Homo sapiens: one gene and its partners. The protein of the gene in region 1 interacts with the protein of each later gene in a biochemical or structural test. Each region holds a gene or a part of one and is shown in the gene's direction. Other genes may lie near its edges. The genes, in order: PDZRN4, MTNR1A, MAP4, CYTIP, SHROOM4, PLCB2 and DLG5.

The links.
Region 2: the proteins of PDZRN4 (region 1) and MTNR1A interact in a test that uses a peptide from one of them, tested with the Homo sapiens proteins (one large-scale study listed by IntAct).
Region 3: the proteins of PDZRN4 (region 1) and MAP4 interact in a test that uses a peptide from one of them, tested with the Homo sapiens proteins (one large-scale study listed by IntAct).
Region 4: the proteins of PDZRN4 (region 1) and CYTIP interact in a test that uses a peptide from one of them, tested with the Homo sapiens proteins (one large-scale study listed by IntAct).
Region 5: the proteins of PDZRN4 (region 1) and SHROOM4 interact in a test that uses a peptide from one of them, tested with the Homo sapiens proteins (one large-scale study listed by IntAct).
Region 6: the proteins of PDZRN4 (region 1) and PLCB2 interact in a test that uses a peptide from one of them, tested with the Homo sapiens proteins (one large-scale study listed by IntAct).
Region 7: the proteins of PDZRN4 (region 1) and DLG5 interact in a test that uses a peptide from one of them, tested with the Homo sapiens proteins (one large-scale study listed by IntAct).

What each region holds. Positions count from the first base shown.
Region 1 is NC_000012.12:41,194,820-41,198,319, forward strand, and holds part of PDZRN4 (PDZ domain-containing RING finger protein 4), read left to right. Parts: intron 1-3,500.
Region 2 is NC_000004.12:186,535,862-186,538,567, reverse strand, and holds part of MTNR1A (melatonin receptor type 1A), read left to right. Parts: exon of another isoform or gene 1-323; intron 324-2,706.
Region 3 is NC_000003.12:48,013,617-48,017,636, reverse strand, and holds the start of MAP4 (microtubule-associated protein 4), read left to right. Parts: upstream 1-1,220; 5' UTR 1,221-1,303; exon of another isoform or gene 1,304-1,316; intron 1,317-4,020. UniProt on the Homo sapiens protein: Non-neuronal microtubule-associated protein. Promotes microtubule assembly.
Region 4 is NC_000002.12:157,441,290-157,445,531, reverse strand, and holds the start of CYTIP (cytohesin-interacting protein), read left to right. Parts: upstream 1-1,442; 5' UTR 1,443-1,511; coding exon 1,512-1,685; intron 1,686-4,242. UniProt on the Homo sapiens protein: By its binding to cytohesin-1 (CYTH1), it modifies activation of ARFs by CYTH1 and its precise function may be to sequester CYTH1 in the cytoplasm.
Region 5 is NC_000023.11:50,629,195-50,632,694, reverse strand, and holds part of SHROOM4 (protein Shroom4), read left to right. Parts: intron 1-3,500. UniProt on the Homo sapiens protein: Probable regulator of cytoskeletal architecture that plays an important role in development. May regulate cellular and cytoskeletal architecture by modulating the spatial distribution of myosin II.
Region 6 is NC_000015.10:40,287,409-40,290,935, reverse strand, and holds the end of PLCB2 (1-phosphatidylinositol 4,5-bisphosphate phosphodiesterase beta-2), read left to right. Parts: intron 1-98; coding exon 99-175; intron 176-263; coding exon 264-359; intron 360-853; coding exon 854-911; intron 912-1,577; coding exon 1,578-1,664; intron 1,665-1,996; coding exon of another isoform or gene 1,997-2,017; coding exon 2,018-2,221; 3' UTR 2,222-3,027; downstream 3,028-3,527. UniProt on the Homo sapiens protein: The production of the second messenger molecules diacylglycerol (DAG) and inositol 1,4,5-trisphosphate (IP3) is mediated by activated phosphatidylinositol-specific phospholipase C enzymes.
Region 7 is NC_000010.11:77,808,256-77,811,755, reverse strand, and holds part of DLG5 (disks large homolog 5), read left to right. Parts: intron 1-135; coding exon of another isoform or gene 136-172; exon of another isoform or gene 173-287; intron 288-521; coding exon 522-662; intron 663-2,025; coding exon 2,026-2,209; intron 2,210-3,500. UniProt on the Homo sapiens protein: Acts as a regulator of the Hippo signaling pathway.

The sequences.
Region 1 (3,500 bases):
CATTTCAAAAAAGGATGATAAATCTCTGTTGAGGAACATTTCTGATGAGGAACTATGATTATATTTTAAATTTGTAATTAATATTTTATATGTAGAGTTTGGAATAAATTATACAATACTTTTAATATTTCTTGGTGTAATATGGCTACCTTGTTCCTGTCATTATCTTTTATATGAAAGAAAAAGAGAAATACCTTTTTTTCTCTTTGTTGTGAAAACCTGGTGAGAACTCTTTGTATGTTTTAACTGTATTGTTGTATTCGGGGGTGATAAAGTGAGCACCTATATGCTAGTAAAATTGGGTTATGTTAATGAAATTTTATGTCCCTGCCATCTGCCATCTCTGTCCTTTTGACATTTTATTAACTGGTTAAGATAATATTACTTTTTGTTGCCAAAAATGGTTAAGTTACTTTTATCAGTGAGTTTATTTCCAATGGATTAGTGAAGCTATAAATAGGAATTTGGAAGGTTTACTTGACTCCACTATTGTTTTTAAAAATTCTGTTCACTCTAGGCTATATAATCACTAGTGCTATCTCTCTGAATACTTATATAAACTATCAGAATGGAGGCAGATTTTCTATATTAAATTTTAAATAAAGTTTTAGCTTTTCATTCATCCTCTGTGCACTAAACAAAGTTGAATTTTTAATGAATCGACATAGAGTAAGAGTGAAGAATATAGAAGACCCAATAGTTTGCTGTTTTGGGAAAAAAGAACACAACATTTATAAATTAGCCGACTACAAAATTTAGAAAAAAAAGAAGAGTTATCTTTTGCCAAAAAAAAAACTTTGATTTATATCTAAAGAGGTCTCTTGTATCAAGATTTTTATTCTTCCAGTTTTGTTGCCGAGAAAGTGCAGACCTACTTTTGCTGTTGCTATCCAGTTCATCTTGACAATTTGTCTAGTGGAAACATTCACATGCTGTAGCTTCTAAAGTTAGAATGTGCACAGTATGATCTAAAGGGCAACATACTTTAAACAGAAGATTGTCCCTATTACTTTCTGCATTATCTCAAAAACATATTAAGTTGTCCAGTTACCAATGGAAAATAAATTCCTACATTTGATATTATTAGAAGAACTGATGGAACTGAATACATATATTGTTACACCCACACAAACACATAGACACAACAGAAATACGTATTGGCAATTTAAAAAATAACTTATTCTAGCTAGATGACAATATTATGTATGCTTCATTAATGTTACATTAGAAAAGAAAAAGAATTTTTTATATTGTCATACAACAATTTGGTTACAAACCTACTGTTTTTTTTAAAGAGGTAATTTTATAAAACTATGGTTGAAAATCAAGTGCATCTAGACACCTACATAGTACTGTTACTAATATATGTCAGATTAACCTTATTTAAACCCTGTAAGATAAAAAGTAAGGAGGTCAACCACAGAAATTCAAATGAAATTTAACTAGCTGCGGTATTATTATTCACTTTCATTTGCATATATTAGCAGTTAATGACTAGAGCTTGAAATTTGTCTCAATGATATAGATTTTTCAATGTGTCTTTTATACCAGGGTACATTGATTTTATGTATATATGCTATAGTTGTAGAATGGATCAATGTGACCACATTTGCAGTTAAGAAATGGGTTAGATGAGGTGCATATTTCTAGAATGTTGTGTGTTAAATAGCATGAAATATTTTAGAAAGAAGATTATTAGAAATAAATTGCTCTTGCTTAGTTGTTCAGTGATGCTATCGGCTTTTTGAGTGAATAGATATTTGTGTGACTTTAATATCTAGTTAAACAAGAAGTGTGTTTTTTCTTGTGCATATGGTGTGTGTTGTAAAAGATCCCTATGTAATCATTAAAGTTAGAAATATTTGATGCTTATCATTATTTTAGTTTCTCTGTCATTATGATATCAATCAACTTTAAGCAGTTTTTAGCTAATTGGAAATTGAGAAGAAATCTATCAATTTAAAATGTGCAGATGCATATTTTAAAACAGATTTTTAAAGTAAAGATAATAATTTATTTTCTGTTTTGTGATCAAAGATTTGTTCATTGAACAAATTTAATGGCTCAATTTTTGAATTTCAAATGGTCATGCTGATTTAAACCTGGTGCAACAAGTAAGTTTGTTAACAGTGTAAAGGGTACAAACTAGTTCATATATTATAAAATTATCCGTATGACTTATGCACAATCTGACACATTACTAAATGCTTTGAATTTACTGATATATAACTGAAATAAAAAATAAAAACAATAAGAGATTCTATGGTTTATATATAGTCAAGATATGCTCAAAAATATTTTCTGTAGCTAATTGCTTGATGCACACATACAAGTTTATGAATTGTTTTTAAAAAATAATAAAATTTTCCAAAGTTATTCACTTGAAGAGGAAGTAGACATGTTAAAGGTTTTGTTCTGTTGGTGGTTAAAAAGATTTTATAAACTCTAATAAATAATATATTAGTTATAATAGTTTTGCCACAGTTCAACAAAGGCTAGTAACACGTATTATTTTTTAATATTTGCATTCTATTGATAAAATTCAAGAATAATAAAAGAATAAAAAATTACTGTCATTAGGTAAACCTATGTCATATTTTTCACATAATATAAGGCAAGTTAATTTTTGGAGTCAGTCTCCACAAGCAACTATGTTAACCAGTTTCTAGCTATTTCCACATCCATATTTGTTAAACTATTTATGCTTGTAAATTTTAAAAAATCAGTTGTGATAGTTGAGTTACACTAGGTGTCAAAATATCACTGGAGACTGAAAAGGCAGAAGATATTGTTGAAGGCATTTTGAAACATCACAGAAATTCACATACACCAAGAATTCACCACAGTATACAGCTGAATAAAAGCATGCTGTTTTTCATTCTTTCAAGAATCAAAGGAATCACAGAAAATCCCTGATCCTATCGAAGGTTGGGCACAATTCTGGAAGAAGGCATGACCATTGCTGTAGTTATCATCATGTTAGGATGCCTAAGTGGTATGTGGGAGGGAGTTGAGAAACAAAGTTCACTGTTGCTTTTAGCATCGATTCCTCTATTCTTTCTTTCTTTCTTCTTCTTCTTCTTTTCCTTGTTTTTTCTGGGTTTTTTTTTTTGGAGACAGGATCTTGCTCTGTCACCTAGGCTGGAATGCAGTGGCATGATCACAGCTCACTGCAGCCTCTACCTCTGGGACTCAAGGTATCCTCCAGCCTAAGCCTCCCAAGTAGCTGGGACTACAGGTGCACCCCACCTCACCTGGCTAATTTTTTAAAAATTTTCTGTAGAGATGGGGTTTCACCATGCTGCCCAGGCTGGTCTTGAACTCCTGGGCTCAAGCGACCTGTCCACCTTGACCTCCTGAAATGCTGGGATTACAGGCGTGAGCCATAGTGCCCAGTCTCCTCTCTTATTTCTATGATACTGATAGCAGGCAATGCAACCATAACTCCAGAGTGGGAAAGGGTGGATAATCATTCATGGCTCTTTGTTTACACTTTCTTC
Region 2 (2,706 bases), on another chromosome or scaffold:
GGACTGGAGCTCTGGAGGATGGTCGAATCTCAAGCCAGGAGGAGGTGAGCAGGAGCTGGAGAAGCTGTGAGCACACTGCCGTCACCCACCCCCTGCAGGGCAGCAGATGAGACTCGGAGTGCCGAGCTTGTGGTGGCGTCTGGCACTTGACACAGACATACTGAGGGCAGAGAGCAAGCTACTGCTGCACTTCCGCCTTCAAAATCTCACGCAATTGCCTCTTGTGGGGAACACTAACCCGGAGCGGTGCAAGGAAAAGTCTTTTCAGCTTCGCGAAGTTGACACAATATAAACCCACTGTGCATCGATTAACCCTCGGCCAGGTACTGTTCAAGGTGGAGGGAGAAGATATCTAAGACAGGCAGTGTCCTCACCGAGGTGATAGCTGGGGCTGTGGGAGATGGGGAGAAGTAGAGACATAATCGCGATAAACAGAAAAGCAACGTCGTGCTGCTGTGTCATTCCCAGAAGGGACTCACAGGACTAGTTCTGAGGAAGGTACTCCCAGCAAGCTGACATTTTAGTTGTCTGTTACCTTATTTTATTCATATCTGTGCCATATTTCACTTCCACTTTAAGGTTTTATTCCTGGGAACAAATATTGACTGTGCATTTTATAGTTGGTGCCTTTAATCACCACAAGGCTGATCGCTGTTCGTCTTGTTGCCAGCATACTGACTTAGGTGTTTTCCTCCCCCATCTTCTCTTTAGAATGTTCTAGTTCAAATACGCTTCTTCAGAATTGTGCCTGGAGAGGCTGTAAGCCAGGACGTAGCCACAGGGCCCAGTTTCTGAGTCTCGTATCTGTAGGAGCACAGGAGCTTTCTCAGGGAAATAACATTGAACAACACTCACCAGTTCATAGCATTGGTATAATCCTGACTCTTTCACTAAGTAGTCGTACGACTTCATCCAATTTAACTCTATATTTTTGTTTTCTCATCTTTAAAAAGTAGGAATTATCCAGGGAGATCATTAACCCATCTCTCAATTTTAACATCCTATGATTCTATGATTCTGCCACAGTAAGGATTGGAACTATATTCAACAGAGAAGAAATTCTTACCCATGAACAGACATTATTTTACATTTCAGAATGCATTATTAAGCTTGTTGCATACAGTCCTGGATATCTGTAAAAATGGGTAGATTGTCCATATGTCTGGAGTTACATAGATTTGAGAATGGAATAGATGAACTTATAATGTGTATAATTATAATTAGATGATTTAATGACTCTTATCTGGTGAAGTTCATAAAAGAAAAAAGGAAATTCCCTTTTTCCTTCTCCGCCCAGACACCACACACCCCCCAGGCACACATGAACACTGGTGCTAAAGCTTTATGTGAGCTACCTGACAGCCGCACCTGTGGGGAGTCTGTGGCTTAATTAATTTTCACCAAGATTTGTAAAATGGGATTAATTCAAAGAATCAATGATCTAATTAATGTAATTGCTTGAATTGTAATGCAACATAATTACTATAAAATAAATGAAGCAGGGTATTCGAGCCATGAAAGAAATTTATGACATCATTTGTGATTTCATTTTTAAGCTCTTTTAAAAATAAATCCATATTAGGCCAGTTTGTCATCATGACACTCTGGGAACAAATGTGCTGTTACAATGACAGTTTGATTTGGAACAGAATTTCACATATTATAGATGCTTTTAAAGCATTAAACATTTTGAGCTAAATAATTTATTAAAATACACCTCTTAGGAATTTAAATGTTTCAACGCTAATTGAAAGTGATCTGTGGGAAAATAAATTTGCCTTTGTAACTTTAATTTGGATGAATACAACCAATTTTTAAAGTATTTGCTTTTATGACAATTTATCTGAAATTCCTAAATAAATGGCACAAATTTTGCCTTTCTCTCATCTTGACTGCTATGGGCTGTCTCATTTCAAATATTGGGAAGTGACAGTTTAATGAACTCATTGAGTGTATGAGCAAAAGTCACTGTATTTATTGGGTGTGGTCTAGGACGCAAATATGAGGAAATGTACTCACGAGGGCCACCATCTGGAGACGCAGGGAAGCCTGGCCTACAGGTCAATAGAATAGAAGGCGAAATCTTCTGTCCGTCCACCTGGGGCTCCCTCTGTCCCTGTCCAGCGCACCCCTTTCCTCACAGCTTCTGGTCTGTGCGTGCTCTGGTGCTGCTGCTTACTCTAGTGTAATTTTCTTTTTCTTTTTTTTCTTTTTTTTTTTTGATACGGAGTTTTGCTCTTGTCACCCAGGCTGGAGTGCAATGGCGCGATCTCTGCTCACTGCAACCTCTGCCTCCCAGGTTCAAGCAATTCTCCTGGCTCAGCCTTCCAAGTAGTTGGGATTACAGGTGCCCGCCACCACGCCCAGCGAATTTTTGTATTTTTAGTAGAGACGGGGTGTCACCATGTTGGCCAGGCTGGTCCTGAACTCCTGACTTCAGTTGATCCACCCACCTTGGCCTCCCAAAGTGCTGGGATTACAGGTGTGAGCCACTGCGCCCAACCACTCTAGTGTAATCTTTTTGACTTTTCCTGTCTCTCAATTCCTGTTTCCCCCTGCACCAAATATATGCATTTAATATGTAAACTGAATTGAATTTATTATAATTTAATCTGAGTAAAAAGCAGTATAAAGTGCTTTAAGACCCTTCAAAGGAGGAAGCTCTTACCACTAGGTGGGCAAATGAGCAAAGGCTTCTGGCATTTC
Region 3 (4,020 bases), on another chromosome or scaffold:
AATGTAAGATGGTAGATGGTCCCATGTGACTAAATTGTAGGGAGACCCTACATGGAAAGCTGCTGATGATTATGGTGGGTGATAGGACTGAGTCTTGTCAGTCAGCCTTGATATTACACGTAAGAGTTTGGATTTACAAAAAAAAAAAAAAAGAAAAAAGAAAAAGACATCTAGGCATTGGGGTCCCTTTAAAGATCAGGTGGAATGTTTTCCTGATGTTCAGGATTCTTCCTGCCTGCCTCCCTCCTTGCAGAAGAAAAGATAGGTAGGTATAAGTAGTAGGTAGGTAAAGGTATGTATAAGCAGGTATAATTCAAAAGGTATATGAAGTACAGCGAAGTCATTGTGTTAGATAAAAGCAGAAACTACAAAACTGTAAGGTTTTGCTTATTTTGTCACGCTCTGCTTCTGTTTTTGGTGTTCTGTGGCTCTTTTCGCCGATCCTTTGTCTCAGCCTCATTTGTAAGTGACTTGTTTTTTCCATTTCTCATTTTTTTTTCCATCTATTAAAGTGAGGGGATTGGATCCTAGATCAGTTCAACTGGTGTAAGCCTTTAGAGCCAGGCATGGTGGCTCATGCCTGTAATCCCAGCACTTTGGGAGGCCAAGATGGGTGGATCACTTGAGGCCAGGAGTTTGAGACCAGTCTGGCCAACATGATGAAACCTCGTCTCTACTGAAGATACAAAAATTAGCCAGGCATGGTGGTGTGCATGCCTGCAATCGCAGCTACTCAGGAGGCTGAGTTAGGAGAATCACTTGAACCCAGGAGGCGGAGGTTGTAGTGAGCTGAGATCATGCCACTGCATTCTCCAGCCTGGGCAACAGGCCAAGACCCTGTCTCAAAAAAAAAAAAAATGCCTTTAGAATGTGGTTAGAAATAATTTTTGGATTGGTATAGATTAACTCTGAATGTTTTCCTGTGTTAGAGGAAGGAAGTGGGATAAATGTAAAGTTTAAAAAAAATGCTCCTTTTTCAAAATTTTGAGGGGTTAGGTATTAAGAATCTTTTAAAGTTTTACTCATTTAAAAAATTTAGATAAAATGGAAGATTCATTCTTAAGGTTGGTGATATCAGAAATGTAAGTGCTGTGTCATTGTCATTTCTTATTTTGGCCTACATAACCGTAACCAGACTTCAGACATCATGCTGCCTGTATCACATGGCTAACAGTGGGAGGTATCTGGTGTGTTCTTCCTGGAGAAATAGATTGAAATTCATTTGGACAGAAATGTTGAAGGCAGGTGCCTGATCCAAAATGCATTTAGTCAGGACTGAACACAAGCTGCCTGGATAGTTCCTGTAAGTAAGCAAGGTAGCCTTTTAACTTTGTGATGCAAGGTTTTATGTATGTGAGTATGTGTGTGCAAGTGTATACAGTATTTTTATATCCAGAGAACAGGGCTCCCTTAAATGGGGGGTGGGGGGGACTCTGGTAACTACATGAAAGTAAAATATAACTTCTTTAAACCTATATCAGTGTGTTCTTTCATGTAGGAATGTAGCTGTGTGATGGCCTCAGCTATTCTAGTAATCAAGGGCTCTCTGCTGTTGCTAATCCTATGATGAACAGGACAAATGGTGGTTACGAACAGAACCCTGTCAAGCCTGGAAATTCCATCAGTTTGTAATAGCACAGCTGTTGTCCTTGAACTGTGTAGGGAGGAACCTAGGGGTGGACAGTTAATATATTCTTCAGGGGGGTTGTAGTTTATTGCTCAGGATAGTCAAGATCTTCCTCAGTTGTCTGTTGCTATCTGCAAGTCTGGTTTGGAGGAGAAGCAGGAGAAATTCAGATTTGTCTGAGGAATCATATGTGTCTGTGAACTGTGTAAGTTGGTAGTTGATTCCTGTAGACATCCTTGCTAAAGATTTATTTTTAAGTAAAATATCATTTTGCTTGAAAGTATAAATCAAGGTTTTGTGGTTAAATAAATTAAAAACAGCACAGCTGCCAGACAAAGTTCAGCTTGATGTATAACAGGCCTCTGAAAGAAGTTCAGTAAGAAACAAATCTGGGTAATAAAGTTAATTAGTAACTAAAAACCTGCTAGGCATACTAAAAAAAAATCTGATGTTGAATATTAAATTATTATGAAGCAGGCTATACCTGTATCCATCAAGATTATAAATGATCTCCCACACTGGCGACGTGGGGTTCCTTTCAAGCCTGAGGAATGAGCACTATATTTTGGCCACAGCATTCTCACTAATGTCCTAGGATAGCAGCTTAGTGTTGGCTTTAGAATTCTCTGTCATTTAAATGTCATGCAAAAACAAACGTATAAAAGAAAACATTAACCCAGATATCTTTATGGTTCCTTGTCTTGTCCATAACCGCCCCCGCCCCCACCCACCCAAAAAGGACAGGCTATCAGTTATAGAGAAAATATAAGTGAGCATTATAAGCAGTATCCTACCTTTAGTAATAATTATTTAAAGTTTATTAAATGGGTTGTTTGGAACTCAAAATGATTTGCCTCAAAGTAGCCTAGGTCACTGAGAAGAAAGTTTATTTCTTTCTGCTGAAACTGACAGGAGGCGATATTTTGAAAGATAGCAAGCTTGTCTTTGGCATGGTATTAACTCCCTTTCTTTTGCCTCCTAGGGCTCCTGGGCCTGTATACCCTTTCCCTACTTTGATACCATATCTATATCTGCTTTATTCCCTGAAAGTTCCCATGTTGCCATAATATTTTTCTTCCTTTTTCACACCAGAACCAAGAACTCAGACATCTTCAATAGAACCATCTCTGGGATGAACAATGGTCTTTCCAGGGATGTACATTTTCTTACCCACTTTTAAATTAAGAAATAGGATTCTATACTTTTAAAAAGAGAATGCTGGCTACTGCAAATGAATGTCGGTAGAAATTTGGCTAATGTGACACAGTAAAATGAAGGTTTCCTAACACAGTGGTTAGGAAAAGTGAGTATGATGGTGGGAATCAGGCTTCTGTTCTTGCTTTTTTTTTTTGAGTCAGGGTTTCACTCTGTTGCCCACGCCGGAGTGCAGTGGTGCAATAGTGGCTCACTGCAGCCTCAACCTCCTGGGCTCAATCAGTCCTCCCACCTCAGCCTCCTGAGTAGCAGGGACTACAGGCATGTGCCACCATGCCTGGCTAATTTTTACATGTTTTTGTAGAGATGGGGTTTTGCCATTTTGCCCAAGCTCTGTTCTAGCTTTTCATGAGTTTTTTCCCTGCATTTTAGCTCCCATAGTAGCACCTTTCAAGGGGTGAATAGAAGAGGACAGAGACAGCAACAGGCCATTGGTAAACCAGATTGCCAATTTCTCATCAGACAGAATGAGCACAGACCCCGAGTGAGTGGCTCTAGATGCGAATGACCTAAAATTTTCAGGAGGACTTCATGGAGCTTAAAAGGTTCTTCAGAACTTCTGTGTAATTAAGTTAGATATTAACACTGTTTAATCTGTATAGACCTGTAAAATATTTTTAGTACAGTAATTAATTCCAGAGTTTGTGAACTATCCAAAGTAAAGCATACAACAAAGTACTGTGGCCTCATCATATATCCTTATTTCCTGTTTATGAGCACCTAGCTCTTAATAGTGAGATTGTAGTCAAGAGAGTATTTTATCATCATGCCATGTAGTTGCCTCTTGCCTTAGTTTACCTATTTTAAAAAACCCGGCTCACTAATAGTTTCACTTCAGGCATGTCATCAGAATGAAAGATCAGATATACAAAGTGCTGTGCTTGAAAACTGTGTGTTCCCTTAGTGCCTGGTTAGATAATACAGGGCTTATTTTCTGGCAGAGTGGTGTTGAGTCTCCTTTGATGTTAGCCAGAACTGGGTGGAGTTTCTTAAGCTCCAGTCAGATTGGCTCAAGCAGGGCACCATGCAGTGGTGAATTTGTTTTCAGTCCCTCCCTTTGCCAAAAAGCTTTTTTTTTTTTTTTTAATAAACCTCAACCCAATTATAAATGAGAATACTTGATATATGAAATAATATGAAATGATAGTTGTTCATATTCACACTGAGGGTCTTAGGGG
Region 4 (4,242 bases), on another chromosome or scaffold:
TCTCTCTCTGTCTTCCTAATACACACACACACACACACACACACACACACACACCCCACATATACCTGTATACATATCTGTACATATCTATAAATATAGATTTTACGTGAATATCTTTATAATTGATGTATTCTTTAGTTGCCAAGGTATTTACCACTCCCTTTTGCCTTACACATTTATGTTACTTACCTGGCTTCTGAAAACGTATGTGTTTTTAATTCCTGATTTAGACCGTTATATGTTTGTGGTGATATCACTTTGTCCATGTCAAAATTCAATTCCAGTATAATGAGTCATGCTGTGATAGAGTTTTTAAAATCTATAATTGGCTTCAACTTTTGAAGCACTATTAATTCAGATTTTACTATTTATATTTGGCAATTTCTACTTGAGTTGAATTCATCTTCACTTCCAGTACACACACATTTCATTTTAGTTCAAAGATTTGCTAACTCTTTCAAATGCTAGTATTGATCTTCAGAGATTTTAAAAAGCACATTTGACTTTTTGTGCCATATAAAACTTCTCTTTTTGACTTTTGTTTCGATTCTTCCTTTTACTTGCCTCCCCTACTCCTCCACTGAAACCAGTTCTCTCAAAACTACCTGCCCCCAACCTCAGCCAAAGGAAAAAAAAAAAAAGCATCTGTGATCTTGAGTACTTGGTGATGGTGCCCTTGACCCATATGCACATGCAGGGACCAACAGGCAATGTTCTTGGTGCCACCTTGGTTTGCCTGTTACCTTCCTGCCCACTCCTTTCCTCCCCTGGGACCACTTGCTGATGCTGCCGCAAAGTCTCGTCTAAGAAATGGCAACATTGTGCCCTAAATGTGCTGGCTTTCCCTTCCCATTGTACTTTGTAAAGATCATGGGTAATTTTTGTAAGGACAAAGTAGTAAAAGGACAACCAGAAGAATGCTGAATGGTTACAACCTCAGTGGCAGATATAATGTCTTTTTGATGAACATTAATGATCTAGGGTATACTTCAGGGAAAGTACAGTATTACAAGGACTTCGAGAGAGAACATTATGACCGGCACCTGTAATTCTTGCCCATATTCACAAGAACTGAATGTCCTCGTGTGCTGACTTCTGCATTGCATTGCTAATGTTAAGTAAGAGAATGGATGGGAAACAAATGGTAGCACTTGGGGACATTTTTCTTTCTTCTCTAAAGAAAAAAATGGCAAATGGTGGTGTGAATGCAACTTGCCACAGAACATAAAAGCGTAAGAATTCTGGCTGTTTGAGGTGAAAAAATAAGTTGATTTTTCTTTAAATTGTAAAAATTAGCTCCAGGTTCTCTCAGGAGCTTAAAGAAAAAAAGCTTTGAGAAATGGGAGTGAATAGCAAGATAGGGTTTGTGTAACAAGTTCCTCAAACCACAGAGGTCACATGGGCTCTTTCTGCTTTGCTACTTTTGATTACTTGTCACAGTTGTACTTTTAGCTTCCCCCATCCTGCAAGGCCACTCAACCATGTGCTAGCTGGAGTGATCTTTATTCACAATGTCTTTACAAAGGCTCCTGCAACACAGCAGCAATGGCAATTTGGCGGACTTCTGCGCTGGGCCAGCGTATAGCTCTTACTCCACACTCACCGGCAGCCTTACGATGGACGATAATAGAAGGATTCAAATGCTAGCAGACACGGTGGCTACTCTGCCTCGGGGACGAAAGCAGGTATGATTGCTATTTTGTACCCTTTAGAGTGTTCACATTCTCTTGAGGGCAGAGTGATATGTTTGTCTGACTTCATACTAATGGTGATATTTTAGAGGCTTTGGAATTACTGGCTGATTATTATGGGTGAAGGAGGTGAGATGCTCAGGGAGCTAGGTGAACCAGTCCAAAGATTTGAGACCACAATCAAACTTTTTTTTCAAGGCAAAAATTAAGATTGTTTTTCTTATTTGAAGAAGTGCTCAGGTAAAATAAACATCATTAAGCATAAAAAACTTGAAGATGGTTTATATAGATACAACCAGTATGAGAATTAATTCTCTTTTCCCCATTGTGTCTCCACTGATTCTTTCCCTTCCATCCTTACTTGCAGTCCTTGATGGTCATTTCAGTTCATAATCAAATAAGAAATACTTTTTCTGAGGACAAATTTTGTTGACTAATTATCTTCAGCTCTGGGTTGCTGGCACATACCTCAGGCTATTGGAAAGTAAGATTTTTTTTTTTTGGATAGATGAGTGCCAGATTGAATATCAGCTCACCACTTAGTGTCTGTGGGATCTTGAGCAAGCCACTTGCCTCTCTAAGCTTCAGTTTTGTTTTTTCTAAAATGGAGTTAATAATAGAACCACCCTTATTGGGTTCTTATGTTGGTTAAATAAGGAACTGTGCAGTGCCTAACACAGTGACTGGCATTCAGTGTGTGTTTATTAAATGCTAGATTATGCCATTTTAATATTTTTATTGCAAAGTTTGTCTCTAGGGATGAAAACTCATTTGGAAAAATCTATGTCTAACTGAATTTATTTTGATTTTTTCGTTCTTCAATTTCTAACATGTAAAAATTTTTTTTTAACCATAATACCTCTTCAGGATTTTTTTTAAACAACTTGCTCTAAATCCCCAGGTACATATTTGAATTTCGATGTAGCATTTCTACAGAAAATATTTAGAATTGCCCTAGAGCAAGAATTTTTGCGCTTAAGTCTTGCATGTACAATCATGTGCTTCTCGTAAGCCTTCTAAATTCAGGATTAGAGAGGTATGGCATAGTGGGAGAGACATGATCTTTTTTCAGTGATGTATAATAGCTGATTCCTTGGTATTTTTCGGAGTGAAGATAAGGGCACAATTTTCCATGATTTGGATTATTGATTGTTCTCAATCTAAAGTGCTTTTATGATACAAAGTTTAATGTAATGATGAACATTTTATCAATCTACAACCTGTCTGAAGATAAAGCAACATGAGAAATGCTGACATCTTTTTTCAGTTTTCAGATATAAAGCAGTCAGATTTTCTTTATATTTGCCATGACACTATCACACCAACTATGGTTCACTTGATTAGGCTATGATTTTTTTTTTTTTTTTTGCTGGAGACTGTGGGTACTTTTTCAATCAGGGTGGGAACTTTCCACCCTCTATGTCCTCCATACCTGCAACCTTACTCATTTGATCTACTCTCTAGCCCATGCAATTCAATGCAACAGATGGTTTCTGAGCACCTACAAGGAGACAGACATCATGCTAAGTGTAGGAGGTAAAAAGACGAGAAGGGAATGTTTCCTACCCATATACTGTTTACAATTCAGTAAGCAGAAAGAATGGGTTTTCTGCAAAGTAAAACAACATGAATACTCTCATCGAAGTGAAACATCTGTAAATATAGCCTTGGAAATAGATATTCGAGATATTGAAGGGTATTCCAGATATTGAAGGGTATTCCAGAGCAAGGGAGAAATTGAAGCTGAGGCATAGATCCTGGTGCCTGGAGGACTTTTTTGTGTAACAACACAATATTAAGTGTGTCAGGAGAACCTGGTTAGTGTGTAGGAGGTGAGAGGAGATCTCAGCGCTGGGCTGCTTTACAGAACACTTGGACAACTTCCCCTGAAAAAGCCGGCACGAGGGCCACTGAACGTGTTTGAGAAGTAGAGGATTTCAGGAACCTTATTGTAGAAATGTAGTGGATTAGTGAGTAGAGACTAGTGGTGAGGGAGGAACTTTTGCAGTAGTTGGAGAAAGAGGAAATGGGGGAACAGAAAGGAGACTGAAAGGCTTTAATATGAAAGGGACTGAAGACGGAGGAGTCACATCTGGTTTTAAGCCAGAGTGAAGATAGCGTGAACTGAAAGAAGGCAATCAGTAGGAGAGGCTGATTATCAGAGGAGGATAAAGAGAGGGATTTTGGCATATGAAATACACGTGTGTGTGTGTGTGTGTGTGTGTGTGTGTGTGTGTATGTGCATATATACATGTACACATATGCACACAGGCACACACACATCCCCATACTAATTAATTTATGCAGATGTTCTCATCTTTTCTAGGTCTTCTCATTCCCCTTCTCTCAAATTCTTTCATGTGGTAGACTTTCCATATTCAAACAGCTTTTTCTTACTGTTGTGAGAATTGCTTTAAAAAATAGCAAAACAAAACTTCTTGTACATGATAGTTCTGATTCCGTACAATTATCATCAATGAGACTTGATGCAAGTTTATCCCAACATTTCACAATCTTCCAAATGGATGTTCATTTCCTTTAACTGGTTTTT
Region 5 (3,500 bases), on another chromosome or scaffold:
CTTATTGCCTCCCATTTTCTACTTCAGAAGTATTTAGAGATGCAAAACTTGCAAATATCCCCAGGCTTTGCTTTCAGAGATCTGACTTGTTGGGTTTTTAAAAAGACAAATCCTTTCCCCTTTCTCCATCCTGTCTCTGTTGGAGACCCAGGTCTAAACTGGCTGCTCTTATATCCCGGTTATGACCTATTACCATAACACAAGCTACCACCATCCCCCAGGCTACTTCTGGGAGGACTCCCTAGGTCCTTGCCTACTCACTGCCAGATTACTTCCCCATGGCATCCCTGATGCCATCTTTTGGCCGGTGCATTCAAACCAGAAGTTAATTCCTGTGTTCAGCTGTTGCATACACAGACACTTTTGAAATGACTTAGTATCTGAATTTGCTCAATATATATCCTTGGTAAAAAGGAACTTCAAGGGTGATAGAAGCCTTACACAAAAGACTATGAACTCTACAATTCCTTTTATATGAAATTCTAAAACAGCTATTCTATGGGGGAACAAATTCAGAACACTGCTCGCCAATGGGAGGTGGCACAGAGATTGACTGGAAAAGGGCAGAGGGAACTTGTGGGGTGGTGACAATGTTCTATATCTTGGTAAGAGTTTGAGTTAAACATATGTACCTGTCAGAACTCAACAAATGTATAGCAAGGCTCCTAGACAGCCAATGCACTTAGTATTTGTGCATTTCACTGGAAGTAAATTTTGCCTAAAAATGTTGTAAACAAATATTAAACTTTATTTAATATGTATGCTGAAGTGTGTTTGAAGTATACTGCTGTATTCAACTTATGTTTTCAGCATACAAATCTTGTACATATTTTGTTATATTTGTCCCTGAGATTTTATGAAAGCGCCGAATCCTAGCCACCCAACCACCAGGGATATTTGTCCCTAAGATTTTATGTTTTTAGATGCTATTATAAAGAGTATTATTTTCTTAATGTCAAGTTGAAATTCTTGATTACTAGTCTATAGAAATATAATTGAATTTTGTGTATTGACATTGTATCCTGCAACCTTGCCAAACTCACTTATTAGTTCTAATAGCTTTTTGGTGGATTATAAAACATTTTCTACATACACAATCATGCCATCTCCAAATAGAATTTAGTGTCTTCCTTTCTCCTGTACATGCCCTTTTCTGGGAGAGAGAAGAGCCTTATTGCACTCTCACCTTCAATACAATGTTTGGAGGAAATGGTAAGAGTGGACATTGTAGCTTTTTTCTTAATCTTTGACTATAAAGTTTGATGTTAGCTGTAGGATTTTTTTGTAGGTGCCCTTTAATTGAGGAAAATCTCTTTTATTCTTAGTTTACTGAGAGTTTTCATCAGAAGTGGATGTTGTATTTTTTTTCAAATGCTTTTTCTGTATCTGTTGAGATGATCATATAGTTTTTCTCTTTTAGTCTACTGATGTGGTGAATGACATTGATTGATTTTTAAAATAAATAGAAGCCTAGCATTGCCAGGATAAATCCCACTTGGTCATGATGTATTATCCTTTTATATGTTACTAGATTTGCTAATATTTTGTTAAGGATTTTGCCCTTATGTTTATCAGGGATTTTAGTCTATAGTTTTATTATAACATCTTTTTCTGTTTTTTGTTTTTTTTGTTTGTTTGTATCAAGGTAATGCTAGCCTTAAAAAATGAGTTGGGATGTATTCCCTTCTCTTTTATTTTCAGGAAGAGTTTGTATAAAATGTCTTCCTTAAATGTTTGCTTGAATTCATCACTGAAGCCATCTGGGCCTGGAGGTTTTTTGGTAGAAAGCTTTTTAACTACAAATTCAATTTCTTTAATAGATTTGGGGACATTTAGGTCATCTATTTCTCCTTGAGTAAGCTTTAGTAGTTTGTGTCTTTCAAGAAATTTGTCCATTTCATTTACATTTTAAAATTTATGGGGATATAGTTGTTTTCAACTTACTTTAAAATGCACCAGGATTTTAAGATGGATTGGTAGATGGATAGAGGAGTAAATGGATATATGATAAGGCAAATATATCAAAATGTTAATTGTAGAATCTAGGTGCTGGGTATATGGGTGATCACTGTGAACTTCTTTCAACATTTTTGTATGTTTGAATATATTCATAATGTTGAAAAAAAGAGGAGAGGAAATATAAAATAATGGTTTTAAGGGCACCGAAGCTGGAACCAGACTGCCTGGTTTTGAATTTCTTCCCCCGAACTTACAATGCCTAAGCTTTCCCATCTAAAAGCATGGGGGTAGTAACAACACCTACTTCATAAGTTGGTTGTGGGGATTAAGTGATGTAACACATTTAAGACTCAGAGCAGTGACTGCCAGATTGTAATCATCTTATAAGTGAGTTATCATCTCTTAAAGGGACATTTTGGCTTAGCTTGAGAGACTTTTGCTGGAAGAAGGACTCACAGATAGACAGTAGACAAAGGGGGCTGAGATTGGGGGTGAGTGGGGCGGGGGAAGTGAGGAGATGACGGCTGCAGCGGTGTCAGCCCAGGACCAGCAGCTCTATAAGAGATGGAGGTACGATTTGCAGGTTGCAGCAATTGGCAGCAGTAATGCATGCGGGTGAGGCTGTGCCTACACCATGCCTCTATTTTTTGTACTCTGAGGGAGGGATACCTTGGGTTCCTAATGCTTGTTAGACCAGCTAAGCAGGTCTGCTTAGATACTAGGCATTCCGACACGTGGATGGCTGCCTAGGAGACACCACATGCCCATTTCTGCCCATCATCTGAACCTTCCACTCCTACTCCACCCCCCTCAAGAAATGGGAAAAACTTGCAGCATGGGTTAAGATGCCATCGCTCTGATGACTCAGGTACTTGTGGTGGTAGCTATCTGAAGTAGGGCTGAGATCCTGCTCCTAATGCCCCTGGACGAGGTTGGTGAACTAATTGTCTCCTGTTCAGTGCTGTGAAGACTGAAATCAGCATGCACTCACGTCCTTCATACCAGCTTGTTTTTCATTCATTGTCAAATTATTTCACTTACCAATTGTATGGGATAAGTTATAATAGGATCTCCCATTTTACAGCTGAGGAAGCTGAGAAAGCCAAGGCTCAGAGAGGTCACACATCTAGCAAGTGGCAGAGCCAGAATTTGAATAACATGACAGTAACTAGCATCTCAGTGTCTACTGGGCACCAGGTACTATTCTAGATGCTTTACATGTATCAAGTCATTGAGTTCTCAAGCAATATTATTATCGTGATTATACTATTATATAGTTGGGGAAACTGAGATAAAGAGAAGTTGAATGGCTTGCCTGAGGCCGCAAGTGAAAGGCAGGTGTGCGATTTGAATCCATGCTATCAAGCTCCAGAGGCCAAGCTCCTGACTGTGCTACACTGCCTCTCCATAAGCTGATTGCAAAGCCCAGGCCCTCTCTAGTGTGGCCGGATGCCCTCTAGCAGTATCACTTCCACTGGGACAGCAAGTTCCCATCACAATCTCCATTTGCAGCAAGCGGTGGGGATAACTGCCTCTTTGAT
Region 6 (3,527 bases), on another chromosome or scaffold:
CCAACCCCCTCACCGACTCCCCTCCACCGACCCCCGCCCCCCGTACTCCCTCTGAACAACAAAGGGCTTCTCGCCAAGCTTACTTCCTCTCCCTGCAGCAAATCTCCAAAATGATGGAGCTGGCCAGAGAGAAACAGGCGGCAGAGCTGAAGGCCCTGAAGGAGACGTCGGAGAAGTACGACTGCCTCCCTCCCACACCTGCTTCGCCTCCCAGCAAGGGCTCAGCCGCACAAAACAGCTCCTTCATGCCTGTCTCTCTGCAGCGACACCAAAGAGATGAAGAAAAAGCTGGAGACAAAGAGACTGGAGCGGATCCAGGGCATGACCAAAGTCACCACAGACAAGATGGCCCAGGAGAGGTGAGCCCTGGAGGGGAGGCCCAGGGCTGGGCAGACCCCACTTCAGGTGGAAAGGGGCCTCTCTACAAATGGATCCTGACTCACTTCCCAAAGATGCATCTGTCCCCTGGCTCTCCAAAAAGCGGATCCCCCCTGTCACCTTTGATCAGAGTGTCCTCCTCAGACAAAACACGGAGGCCAACACTACATGGGCAGAGCTCTGGAGGCAGCCAAGCCTGCAGGGAGGGAGCTGAGGCCTTGGGATTGTAGCCTGTCCACTGTGGTGGCACTGTTTCCCACGGAAGGACAGTGTGTTTTGATGGGGAAATGGTTCCCTCAGAGGGCCCCAGGACTCCCAGTGGCCCCTACATACTCCTTGGGTCCCCACACCTGCCCCCAGCTGGTTCCTGCCCTATGTTGGATTTCTCATTTGCCTACATCCTGCGTAGACTTCATGTTACCCTACTCTCCCTAGGGGTTTTCTCCCTTTTCTAAAACTCCAATTACACCAACAGGTTGAAGAGAGAGATTAACAACTCCCACATCCAGGAAGTAGTGCAGGTGATCAAGCAGGTGTGTAAGGGCTGTGTCCTTCCTAAACACACACACACACACACACACACACACACTCTCTCTCTCTCTCTCTCTCTCTCTCTCTCTCTCTCTCTCTTCACAAGTAGGAAGGGGTGGCCCCAGGCCCTGACTTTGCCCTTAGGAGATGCACTGCCTAGCGCTGTCCATGCAGCTGGGGTGGCAGGGGACATCCTGGGGTTCTGGCCTGTGTATGGAGGTTGGGGTACCAGCCTGAAGGGATCTGTCTCTGGCCAGTTCTCATGTGTGGAAATGATATGGGCTAACTGGCCCATATCAGGGCCAGGGGAGGCTGGGACTGGCGAGGGTCAGGGGATGAAGAGGGAGTGAGGAAGCTTCCTGAGGTGCCAAGGAATAATGGACCTGAAGCTCCCCTAGGGATCATTAACCACAGAACACAGCTGCCACCTACTGGGTCCTGACCTGTGCCAGGCACTCTGCCAGGTGCCTCACATGAGCTGTCTTGTATAATCTTTTACAGTCCAGTGAGACAGGTGCTGCTATCCTTATCTTACAAATTTTAAAAACTACCTAATGTTAAGGAATTTGCCCAAAGTCTTACAACTAGTTAGCTGGGATTACAGCTGGATTCTGACCCAGCTTGCCTGTCTGTGTTGTCCTGATTCTCTGCCATCCACTCCCACCCAGATGACGGAGAACTTGGAGAGGCACCAGGAGAAGCTGGAGGAGAAGCAGGCGGCTTGCCTGGAACAGATACGGGAGATGGAAAAGCAGGTAACAGGTTCACTACTGGGACCCCCAGCAGAACTGAATGGGTTCCGGGTTGTAAAGGGGCCTTGCCCCAGGGAGCTGCCAGTGAGAGGGTAGGGGAAGGGGGCCATCATCCTTCACTGTGGGGTCCCGAGGCCCTTTCAAATGAGGCAGCTCTGCAGATCTCCGCCTGGTTAGGATCCCCTTTCCTGAGAGGCTCCTGATGGGCTCTACCACTCCCCCACCCTGCCTCTCACCCCAGTCTCCTGGGAGCTCCGAACATGGATATTGGGCATCTCCTGTTCCCACTGTCCAGGGAGCGAGGGTGGCCAGCAGGCCCCTCCTGAGCCAGGCAGGGGTCCTTGCTGTCTCCACAGTTCCAGAAGGAGGCGCTGGCAGAGTACGAGGCCAGGATGAAGGGTCTGGAGGCAGAGGTGAAGGAGTCGGTGAGGGCCTGCCTCAGGACCTGCTTTCCCTCCGAGGCCAAGGACAAGCCTGAGAGGGCCTGCGAGTGCCCCCCAGAGCTGTGTGAGCAGGACCCACTCATAGCAAAGGCAGATGCCCAGGAGAGCCGCCTCTGATGCCCCCATCCCACTGGGACATTTAGCAAGGAGGTTCAGCCCCTTCTCTGGGATGTGGTTCTATTCCCCCAGGAAAAAGGAGCCCCAGCCTTCTGAGGCTGTGGGAACCTGTGGCTGCCTTGGACGCTGCAGCCCCCTCCTCAACGGCCAGGCCAGAGTCTGAGACAGGACCCAGGCACCCTCACGGCAGGGCCTCTCTGGGGCCTAGAAGTCTTCTCAAGCTGACTTCCTACCTCCCCCTCCATCTCTAGATAAGTGTCATATATTTGTTGAGGGCAAAAGACTATGGACTGGAAGGCAGAAAGTGGGATCCTGGCCCCACTCTGCCTTTCCTATTGAGCAACCAGCTCTGGGCTCAGTTTCCTCACCTGGAGGGTTGGACCCACTCACCTCCACTCTAGCCCCGAACCCTCCTGCCCCAGGCTTCCAGGCCCCATCAGGCCTGCCCTGAGTTGGCCTTGTCCACTCCTTGAGGCAGATCCTGGCACTACCTCACAGCTCCCTGGGGACGGCCACTCCCTGGCTGAGGGCCCTCCCCTCCCCTCTGCCTGTCCGGAACGGGAGGCTGAAATGGAAAAGCTGCCTTGGCCCTGCTTGGCTGAGTCACAAGGGGCAGTGGGCTCTTGGGTGCTGTTCCACCCTGACCCTGGCTCACCCCTCTTCCTAGGCCTGGGGGCAGGCAGTTCCTACCATGTACCCCTCTCAGGCTGCCTGCCTGACAAGGTCAGCATCATTTGCTCTCCTGAATTTATGAGGTTTATTTATTTTTCTCTTTCCTACTCCTATTAAAGAACCTCGTCCCAGTGTTTCCTGCTTAAGCCTGGTCTCTATTCTACAGGTAGAAAATGGGGGCAGGGTAGTGGAGTGCCCCTGAAATGAAACGGGCTGGGGAAAAAAAAATCTCTTGGGAGCTGAACCCAGGGTGAGGTCCTTTCCAGAGTCCAGTGAAATGGCCCTGCCTCTGGACTTGAAGAGGATTCATTTCCCCTTCTGCTGGCCCTGATGCCACAATCACTGGAAAATTATGTCACCCCCTCTTCGCCCCCACACAGATGTGGCCCTTCATTGTCTCCACTCTCGGGGTTGGAGCAGAAGAGCTGAGTGCAAAGATGTCCCCTATTTTAGGGGGAGTTCCAAACTTTTAGGCAATCTAGGCCCCTTTAGGAAGACAGAGTGGTTGGATGCTCAGGACCCTATGGCAGCTATGGTTGACCTCAAAACTTGCTGTGGAGGGGCTTGTGGGCAGCCACTCACTGCACCGATGACATGATCCCAAATCCCAAATAGGGACAGGCACTGGCTTAGG
Region 7 (3,500 bases), on another chromosome or scaffold:
GAGAGGCTGTCTCCTCCTGAAATGGGGTGTGGAAACAGATGGCTGTGGTCCCCCTGACCAGCAGGGGCCCATGGTAGCCAGGAGTTGTGGCCCCGGGGGTGGATTCTCACTCAAAGTGTTTGGCTCCCTGTCCAGGAGCAGATGCTGTACACCTGTCTGTATCTGCCCCTGAGCTGTGGGTTGAAGGGCAGAAAAGAAGGGGAGGCATGCCCTGCAGTGCTGCGCCACAAGCTCAGCAGGAGAGATGGGATGCACAGGCAGAGGAAAAGAGACAGGATGCTCACAGCTTCCTGAGGTCAGATGCCTTTGGAGAGGGCCCCTGAGCTGAGGACAGGTGGAGGGGAGAGGACAGGTGGATGTCATGGGTCCAGGCTTCTAATGTGTCTGCTCTGCTCAGGGCACAGGGTGCAGGGCTATGTGACCTGGTCCCCATTTATAGCTCAGATCTAGTTGCCACAGGAGTGGGGGTGGCTCTGGGTGGCTTCGTACTGCTCCTTATCCCTCCTGTCCTCCGCCTCCAGCTCACACCTGGACCCTGCCGGTACCCACTCCACTCTCCAGGGCAGTGGCACCACCACCCCGGAGCATCCATCTGTCATCGACCCACTGATGGAGCAGGACGAGGGGCCTAGCACCCCCCCAGCCAAGCAGAGCAGCTCCAGGTCAGCAGACGTTGCTGTGAGCCTTCCCTGTGTCCGCTTCGGCTGGGTGGGGCTGAGCACATTCTCCAAGTGGCGTGGGCACTGGGCAGCTGGCCTCATGTGCTGCAGGCCGCACACCAGGTCTTCAGGAGTTGGGCCGGGAGCACGGCATTCCTTTTTTCCTTCCCTACTCTCTCTTTTCCTTTCTCTTTTTCTCCTGTTTTCTATTGACTTGTTTTTTCCCCTGCATCTTCTCTTTCTCTTCTCCTTTTCTTGTTCACTCGCTTTCTGAGTCTGTCTTTGGACACATTCCCACAGTCATCACCCGGCCAGGCCCTGGGCTCTGGCCACCCACAGCAGTGCTTCCCCCAATGAGGTGGCAGACCAGTGCCGGGCACGTGCAGCAGAGTCAGGGTGCTGGGAGGGCACTGCCGGCCGCCGCAGAGCAGGCAGGAAGATCACTGGAGTGTGGCAGGGGAGGTGGCAGCTGGATTAAAATGTTCAGGACAGGCAAGAGCCAAGAGTGGGCATAAAGAGAAGTCCAGGCCGAGGGAGCAGCAGAGTTCAGGAGGAGGAAGGAGCTCCATGGGAGCTGCACAGCGTCCAGCCTGGCCTGGGGCTGCAGGGAGGGCCATCCAGGCCATGGTGTGACATGATCACTCTGCCGTCCTGGAGGAGCTGTGTCTCCAGCACTGAGAGGCCTTCACCAAGCCCTGGGCAGCATCTCACAGAATGAGGCCAGCTCTGCATTCTCTATACCAGAGTCTGTCACATTGGAACTTACCTGCTGCAAGGTTTTCCTCCCGGGCTGGCATCTCCCCTGAAGCCCCCTGTATCTGTTTCCATCGCTGTCCCATCTCACTCCCTCCATGTGTTCAGCAGCTTACTTTCAGCTTCCCTTCCTTGATTGTAAGTGCCTTGATGGCAAGGGGCCCCTCTTCACAAGTTAGCAGTTGCTGGTCTATAGAAGCTTCTTCGTAGACATTTGCTGAATACATTGCTGTGCTCTGGACAGTGAGGCCAACTTTACCTTTCCTTAGGAAGTACTAAGTTAGGAAAATGAGTGTGATCCACATGGGAGGGAGGCCATCCTGATCTTTAAGGCATGAGATTGATAGCCGGGCCTGGGAGCAGGGGCACTGATTTACGGTTTTGACTGCCCCCGCTAACTGGCTTTGGACCTGGGGTCTTGCCTTCATCTCCAGTGCACCTTAGCATCCTGTCCCGAACGCCGAGCCAGTAGAACTAGAGGCCACCTCTCAGCTCCCTGTGGTTCTGAGACCCCAAGAAGCAGGCAGAAAGCGGTTAGGGCATTGGCCACTGCTTTGTCTTTTTGTGCCTCCTCTTTGTGCACAGTTGAGGAACTTTGTTTTTTTCCTGAAAGGATTGCGGGAGATGCCAACAAGAAGACCCTGGAGCCACGCGTTGTCTTCATCAAAAAGTCCCAGCTGGAGCTTGGGGTGCACTTGTGTGGTGGGAACCTGCATGGGGTGTTTGTGGCCGAGGTGGAGGATGACAGTCCTGCCAAGGGTCCTGACGGCCTCGTGCCAGGGGACCTCATCCTGGAGGTGAGTTCTGAGCTGCTGAGCAGGCCAGGCCTCCATCTACCTGCACAGTGGGCTTGCTGCCATCTCAGGTGGCACCAAAGACGGAGGAGTACAGCCTCTCATCTGGTGAGCCAGTCAGGGCTGACTTTTGTTGTTGTTGTTGAGGCAGAGTCTTGCTCTGTCGCCCAGGCTGGAGTGCACTGGCACAATCTCAGCTCACTGCAACCTTCACTTCCCAGGTTCAAGCGATTCTCCTGCCTCAGCCTTCCGAGTAGCTGGGACTACAGGCATGTGCCACGATACCCGGCTAATTTTTATATTTTCAGTAGAGACCAGTTTCACCATGTTGCCCAGGCTGGTCTCAAACTCCTGACCTCAAGTGATCTGCCCGCCTCGGCCTTCCAAACTGCTGTGATTATAGGCATGAGCTACCGTGTCCAGCCTCAGGATTGATTTTTTTTTTTTTTTGAGACAGAGTTTTGCCCTTGTTGCCCAGGCTGGAGTGCAGTGGTGCAATCTCAACTCACCACAACCTCCGCCTCCCAGGTTCAAGCGATTCTCCTGCCTCAGCCTCCTGAGTAGCTGAGATTACAGGCATGCGCCAACACGCCCAGCTAATTTATTTTTGTATTTTTTGTAGAGACGGGGTTTCATCATGTTGGCCAGGCTGGTCTCAAACTCCTGACCTCAGGTGATCCACCCGCCTCGGCCTCCCAAAGTACAGGGATTACAGGCGTGAGCCACTGTGCCTGGCCAGGGTTGATTTTTAATCCCTGTAAACCCAGAATCCTGCCAAGCCCTTCTGAGGAGGTCCCTGTGAAGCCAGGCAGGCCATTGAGGGAACCTGAGGGCAGAGCCTTGGCTCAGGCCCTGGGCATCAGGGGGTGCTCGCCCTCAGGTGATGTAGCTGCAGGACTCTGTTCTGATGAGAGAGGATGGTCTTTCTCTGTGGTCTCCTGCCTCATGGGGGAGATGGTTTGTGAGAATATAAAGGCACAAGTTGGGCTGGGTTTGGTGGCTCACACCTGTGAATTTTAGGAGGCCAAGGTGGGAGAATTAGTTGAGCCCAAGAGTTCAAGACCGGCCTGGGCAACATAGTGAGACCCTGTCTTTACAGAAAACAAAACAAAAAAATTAGCCAGGTGTGGTGGAGTGTGCCTGTTGTCCCAGCTATTCTGGAGGCTGAGGTGGGAGGATCACTTGAGCCTAAGAGGTATAGGCTACTGTGAGCTGTGATTGCACCACTGCACTCAGTCTGTGTGACAGAGGGAGACCCTGTTTCAGAAAATAAATAAATAAAAGCACAGGCAAC